Linked DNA regions of Homo sapiens. The protein of the gene in region 1 purifies or fractionates together with the protein of each later gene. This does not show direct contact. Each region holds a gene or a part of one and is shown on either strand. Other genes may lie near its edges.

Evidence for each region.
Region 2: the proteins of OSTC (region 1) and TIA1 purify together in Homo sapiens (affinity purification with mass spectrometry; one large-scale study listed by BioGRID and IntAct). This does not show direct contact.

Annotation. Positions count from the first base shown.
Region 1 is NC_000004.12:108,660,410-108,664,234, reverse strand, and holds part of OSTC (oligosaccharyltransferase complex subunit OSTC), read right to left. Parts: intron 1,003-3,825; coding exon of another isoform or gene 929-1,002; intron 1-928. UniProt on the Homo sapiens protein: Subunit of STT3A-containing oligosaccharyl transferase (OST-A) complex that catalyzes the initial transfer of a defined glycan (Glc(3)Man(9)GlcNAc(2) in eukaryotes) from the lipid carrier dolichol-pyrophosphate to an asparagine residue within an Asn-X-Ser/Thr consensus motif in nascent polypeptide chains, the first step in protein N-glycosylation.
Region 2 is NC_000002.12:70,224,468-70,228,292, forward strand, and holds part of TIA1 (cytotoxic granule associated RNA binding protein TIA1), read right to left. Parts: exon of another isoform or gene 3,356-3,825; coding exon 3,268-3,355; exon of another isoform or gene 927-3,267; coding exon of another isoform or gene 890-926; exon of another isoform or gene 261-889; coding exon of another isoform or gene 163-260; coding exon 87-162; coding exon of another isoform or gene 45-86; exon of another isoform or gene 1-44. UniProt on the Homo sapiens protein: RNA-binding protein involved in the regulation of alternative pre-RNA splicing and mRNA translation by binding to uridine-rich (U-rich) RNA sequences.

The DNA.
Region 1 (3,825 bases):
ATATTTAGATAGAAAAGAATATTTAAATAGACATGTCCTGTTCAAAGCTGCCAAACTTAAAATAGTTTTACCTTAAGGACAATTTGGGAGATACTAAGAAATATTATAATGTTATAACGATACCATGTTAGAAAAAAGAAAAGAAGAACAAATACATTACTATACTTCTTGATAAGAAATAAAAATAAAATTGTTGAAATACACTTACTATAATATATACTCAATCATTTAGCCCCCTCTCTTGACCCAGAAAATTTCATAATCTTATATTCAGGCCTGTGAGAATTTTACATAAGTAAAACCGTAGATAAATACAATAAAAAGTAAATCAAGAACTCAAAAACCAACTAGAGACAGGAGAAGCCACCATGAAGGACCTTCTATTTAATCTTTAAGGCCATTCTTTCAATAATCACTCAGTGCCTCTGTATATTAAGGCAAGCTCTGTGCTAGGTTAGCACTAATAGAAGCTTCTCAAAACACTACCACATTCATTATTGCATTTAACCCTTGCAACAATCTTAAAAAGGTGTGTGAAACAAGGATTAGTCTCATTTTACAGATGAAGAGTGTGACAGCAATTAAGTCGTTTGCTCAAAAATCACAAGGCCAGAAAAGAACAAAACCAGCATTAAAACACAAGTCTCCTCACTCCTGGTCTACTACCCACTCCAATGGTCCTAGAAATGGAAACCTCACTTTCTTCTTTTAGAAACAGTAATGGTTTATTCAGGCTGGGCACCTTGGCTCACGCCTGTAATCCTAGCACTTTGGGAGGCCGTGGCAGGCGGATCACGAGGTTAGGAGATCACTGGCTAACACGGTGAAACCCCATCTCTACTAAAAATACAAAAAATGAGCTGGGCATGGTGGTGGGCGCCTGTAGTCCCAGCTACTAGGGAGGCTGAGGCAGGAGAATGGTATGTACCTGGGAGGCAGAGTTTGTAGTGAGCCGAGATCACGCCACTGCACTCCAGCCTGGGCAACAGAGCGAGACTCCGTCTCAATACGAAACAAAACAAAAACAGTAATGGTTTATTCATTTATTTTTGAAACTGTGGCCATAATCTAACTTGAAACAGAACTTTTAGGACTCTATCTTTAGAATGAAAACACTGACATTGATTAACACTTACATTATGATTGAGAGCACACCTTCTCATTTAATGTTGACAACTGTAACTCCCCAAGGTACATTAATACTTCATTTAACAGGTTTGGAACCTGAGGCCAAGAGAGTTCACAGAACTAATCCAAAGTCTCAGAGCTATTAAGTGGCAGGCCAAAACTGGACTCCAAATTCCTCACCCTCTCTACTACACATTGTCCTCAGCAGCTGTACAAATGTTTTGTTTCTTTAGAATGAATTACGTCCCTTATTTGCTAAAAATGAACCTCGGATATCAGCTTTTTAGTCGCTGAAACAATCCAGCTGCTAGTTTCTCTACAGCCTTAACTCTCTAAAATATAGCTCCAAATCTGGAAGGAAATGAAAGAGATTCTCAAACATCTGAAAGTATGGTTACAAAGCCAAGCCATTAAGCTCTCCTTCAGCCAGAACTGATTTAAAAGGTAATTAATAGCTAGGTTATCTATTCCCTCAAGTCATAGAATAACCAGCAAACTGAAAAGAAGAAGAGGGAAAGGATGAAATTACAATAGGTATATACTGATCACCATGACAAGTGACAAGCCAGTGAAATCAACAAAACTGAAAAGTAGTACTATGCATAACAGAAATGTAAAATGACCTCAGTGGAGAAGGTTAAATTATGTTTAATCTCAGTGTCCAGCAAGTAACAGTTATCAAATAAATATTTGCTACATACAAATATGAGTGTTAACGTGTAATACAACACAACAAACGCTTTAGAAAGAGGGTCTGTCGAAAATGAATACAATGTTTTAGTATTTATGTATTTTCAATTACATGGAATCACATATATGCAGCATATCATTCCCTAAATGATGTTAGTTTAAATATTATTACATTCATATTTTTTATTCCTTTCTCCCTTTAAGAGAACTTGTTTTCTGAACTGATCCCATGATCTCAGGATTTATCCAGAAGATCCTTAGCTTTTCTTCTCAAGCTTAATAAACACTAGGTGAAATTGCTAAAAAGCCATTTTTGCCAGCTGAAATAAGGCAGACCTTTTGTCCTCAATTATCTGATAGTATCTATTTCAAGTAGTTTTATACAGCTTTATAACAGACTTGCCTGAATGTAGGAACCCATCCCTCCATCTCCAATTGAACACCTCACCTGACTTTAGGGCATTACCACGCCACCACAGGCCACCTTTTATTTTTATTTTTTTTAAGATTCTGCTTTTGGCCAGGCATGGTGGCTCACGCCTGTAATCCCAGCACTTTGGGAGGCTGAGGCAGGCAGATCACTTGAGGTCAGGAGTTCGAGACCAGCCTCTGCCAAAATGGCAAAACCTCATCTCTACTAAAAATACAAAAATTAGCCTGGCATGGTGGCACATGCCTGTAATCCCAGCTACTCGGGAGGCTGAGGCAGGAGAATGGCTTGAACCTGGGAGGCGGAGGTAGCAGTGAGCCGAGACCGCGCCATTGCACTCTAGCCTGGGTGATAAAGCAAGACTGTCTCAAAAAAGGAAAAAAGAAAAGAAAAGAAAAAGATTCTGCTTTTAAGTTAAAGCTGCCCTAAGAGTGGAGGCTAAAGACAATCTAATGAAGATTCATTATTTTTTCAGAAGAATCAAGTTCAAACGTGTACCAGTCTTCTACTCAGTAACCGAACATTATTTCCTTTGAGTCTATGTATATTTAAAATGCAGTGAACATACAGACGCATACATACATGATTTCACATACATTATCTCATAAATTATATTAGAATATTTTCATTTTCACAATGAAAATTACTCCTTTGAGACTGTACTAATAAAAATATTAGGGACTACGTTTAATTTTTTCCTTTTAAATGTACTGCTATGTGTGCAAAGCTAATAAACAATCATTCTTTATTCTTTTTTTTTTTTTTTTTTGAGATGGAGTCCCACTCTGTCACCAAGCCTGGAATGCAGTGGCACAATTTCGACTCACTGCAACCTCTGCCTCCTGGGTTCATGCAATTCTCGTGCCTCAGCCTCCCAAATAGCTGGGATTACAGGCGTGCACTACCACGCCCAGCTAATTTTTTTATTTTTTAGTAGAGACTGGTTTTCACCACGTTGACCAGGCTGGTCTTGAACTCCTGACCTCAAGTGATCTGCACACCTCGGCCTCCCAAAATGCTGGGATTACAGGCCTGAGCCACTGTGCCCAGCCAACAGTCATTCATTTTCGACGTTTCTTCAAAACTCAAGACATCAAATAAAACATGTTTTAATTAGTAAAATTATATCAATAGGGGAAACATCAGGTCTTTCAAAAAAGCATAAATCAGAAAACAGAACCAGTAATACTGTTTCAGTGCTACTGTTTTCTCCTTTTCAAAGGCATCTCTTGCTAAAGGTAACATCTTTGTAAAAAAGAATTCCACCCTGGAGGTTATCATGGTGCATCTTATGATACAGCCATCCTTTATCTCAGATGCTAGAAACATAGTTGATTTGGAAAAACCAGTGGCTATTGGTGTTTTTTTGACATCTTTTTTATTGTTGTGGTTAGTCCACTCACTATAATCAAACTGTTAGGTCATCATAGATAATTTGCATGAAAGAAGAAAGATACACCCTTTCCTTGCTGGGATAGTAACTACAACCCTGTTGTGTGTAATACAGGCCAACAGTCCTTGCTCATCATCTCCTCTGGGGCCTGCAAATATTCCAGGAAAGATAGTATCATTACTTC
Region 2 (3,825 bases), on another chromosome or scaffold:
AGACGAAAAAAAGATTAGTAATTAAAACGGAGTGTTTCCATTCTTTACTCTTTAAGCATTATCCATGCACTTCTCACTGAGCTCACCCATTTGTTGAAAAAGGAGACAAAGCCATATCCCTTAGACTTTCCTGTTGCCATGTCTTTTACCACTCGGGCATCTCTGAAATCAGAAACAATCAGAAGTTTAGGTTTGCAAACTATCCTCTGGATATCAAATAAGAATTTCACACACAACTCATTCTCATGTTTCACCTTCATTAAAGTGAACCTTTAATGCAAATTCACCTTTTATTCTACAAAATTTATCATGTATTAGGAAATGAGGCTTAATTTTATAGACATGCAAATCAATAACTTAAGTATATATGTATATTTATATTGTACAGAAATTGCCTCTCTCTTCAAAAAACTTTTTAAACTTTTAAATATTAAGCATGGTGAAAGCAGCTACTCACATGAACTACTTAACCACTTATAAAGTTCACAGGACATTAGATGAATGGCTTTCTTTAACCATGCAATTTATAACTTATTTGACACTATATTCTACCTAATCATTAAAAAAAAATAGAAAACTGGAAACCAAAAGAATGAAAAAGTTGTATATTCCCTAAACTAATTAAACTATTTAATTTTTTCAGATCAATTTATACCCCCCTTTTTGTCTAAATTTTGAGAACTTGACATTTTCAGAAATGTTAAATCATTGAAGAAAAATACTAGACACACACAAGTTTTAAGCTAGACAAGAAAAGATTTTACACTGAATTTTATAATAGCATTCATATAAAATTGATTGGAACTACAAGATATAAAAGCAAAATTTTAAAAAGTCAGAAAGTAAAAAAGCACGCCAACATTTATCCACTGTGAACCGTAGCTTGTAGTTAGCCAGGGCAATTCTGTCCATTCTTCAGAGACACTCTGCAAAATAACCAGAGCCCTATTATTTGAGATTGAGTAAAAACCCAGCCATGATAGCTAAAACTCCATACCTCAAAAAATTGGACTCAAATTGTGCTTCACAGGCAATCTGCTTTTAAGTTAGTCAGGTATGTCACAATGCTTGCTCTCTCAGGACACATGAACAAAACAGGCACTTTTATAACAAAAACCCAAGTCAGAAAGCCATGCAATGTAATTTTCTATTAAAGTATACATAAGCATATTTTAGATCAATCTGAGTGATTTATTAAGTGTTCAGGGTCAAAATGACAAAGACGTGGTGGTGAAAAGGGAAAATTAATGTAAGTCAATGTTCAATATGCAAAAATACTTAATAAATTATCTGTATGGTACGCATGCATTTAATCTGGTAGCTGACTCTCTTCTACGCTGTAATTTGTTAGTCTACCCTAAACTCAAGGAATAGGAAGAGTTTATAGGCTGTATATAAGGGAAAATACCATATTTTTTATACTACATGCTTTTACAGACCACTGTTTATTACACATCTATAAATCAAGCACTGATATTTGCACTTTTTAGAGAATATCATGAGAACCCTTCAACATACAGTTATCAACTTATCTCCTTTAACAACAACAAAAAATCAGGAAAATATGCTACTGACTGCCAAATGATTCCTTTAAATGCAGGAAAGCTAATTCCTTATATAGCCTAAAACTCAAACATTATACATTATCTCAATTGAAAATCATAAAACTTAAAGGTCTTACCAAGAAAAAAAAAGTATACACCAATAATCATGGGACCATAAGAAAATCTACAGACTAAAAATATGACACAGAAATATATTTAAGAGAAAAAAATATAACCCACGATTTGTAAATCATGAAATTGCTAAAATCTGAAGGTCACTTAACTTAAACTCACCAACTGTTAAACAATCTTTGCCTAATTCCAAACTAAAATTCCCGTGTTTTCAAAAAAACTACCTCAATTAAAATCAAAGCATTTAATAAAATAGCTACTTAATCTGTTCACAATGTTAGAAAATTTTTTCTTCTTAAAGTTTCAGAAAATGTTAGTCTTGAAAAATATTCAACTCATTTATTTCTCTCTGAAAAGATTCTCTGAAGCAGCAGCAAAGATCTAGATCAGGCTTCTTTATCCTTTTATGGTTCTATGACTACTCTGACAATAGGATAAAATTTACAAAGATTTTCCACACCAAAATGAAAACACAAAATTGTGCATAGAGATTTAGAGCCCTTGAGAGGCCAAAGGCTAAGACTGTCTAAGTCCAGATATTCGAAAGCAAGCTAATTATTATTGAAACTCTAAGATATTATTAAGAAGGACAATCAAGAAATGAAAGCTGTACTTATTTTCCTGATCAGGTCTCACAAAGAAAAATGTCATCTGAAAGAAGTCCATTTATAAGCCCTAATTCTGTGACCACCTTTAAAGTTGGTAATTCCTTGGTCACATCCCCTAATCAAGGAACGATAACTCTTCAAACGAAAGCTCCTAAAATTCACCAATACTACTGGCATTTACTTTCCAGTCTCCTCATCTCATCTCTGCTGTTGGTCTGTTCAAACCAAACCACAGCTAGCACTTCCTTTTTACTATTCTTCTAGGTGGAAAAATAACAGAGCAAGCAGAAACCCTGAAGAAGTTTTCTAAGCTAATTACTCTACAGAAAGTACTGTAAACAACTTGTTATTCTTACTCTAATATGGCATGCTTTTCAAAATTTTAAAGTTCTTCTATGATGAATGCTATCTCAAGTAAGGTATTTATTCATAAGGGCCTAAAATGTATGACTAATAACAAGTGCAAGCAAGGCAGTGCTTCATAAAATATTATTAAGGCACTATTATTGTTAGCAGTTTTTTTAAAAGGGTGTAAATATCTAGAAAATAATATTCAATAACTGCTTTTTAAGTTGAATTGTTAAGGTTTCTTTTTGTTAAAATATATTAACACAAAATGCATGGTATCATAGAAGTACCCAACAGATCTAAATTCCTTAGTTACAGCACAATTTTACTAAAGATTGTCACCAAGCTAGCTTGATACCTATATAAGAAAGTAAAACATGTACAATGGCAAATTTGTCTCTTAAGAGCTATGCTAATTGAAAAAGGATTTTAAGATAATTGAAAACCAAAGGTTTATTCATCAATGGGAAAACAATCTTTTGCTGTTAACTTCTTGAATGATCTCTAAACAATGTAATACATTATATTCAAGTTATAAAATTAATGTACAAAATTCACAACAGAATTATTTTCAAGTTATGTCTACATATAATTGTTTCTAATTAAAAGGATTTTATTTATCTTCTGTTACTTACGATATTCTTCCAAATGGTGCAAAAGCAGCTTTTATATCTTCAGTTGTAATTTCTGGGCTGAGATCACCAACAAAGACATGGAAATGATCTTATAAGGGGAAGGAAGGGGAAGTGAAAAGAAAAATAGAACTTTAGAATTTAAAAAGTACTAAAATCTATCCAATAAAGTATTCTTAAAATGATTATGGCTTATGATAAAGTATAAATAAAACACTATCCTATATCTATACAAATCCTACCAATTTTAAACAATGAATCAAGGTAACAATATAGGAAAAATTCTCCTGAAACGACTGTGATACATCTAACTGTAAAGTGACATTTATATTTCTATTTACAGTCAATTATTACACTGGTCTAAGAAAATAAACTAATAACATACAAGTTTCAGTTCTGCAAAAAAATTTAATGACTTAGTTACCATTCTAATAATAATTATTTACTTTTATTCAGTTTACCACTATATTAAGGCTTTACAAATTAAAATAAAATAGTGGTACTGTGAATTATGTAGACTAGATTTGCCTCAGTTAACACAATTTACTGAAGCTAGCTACA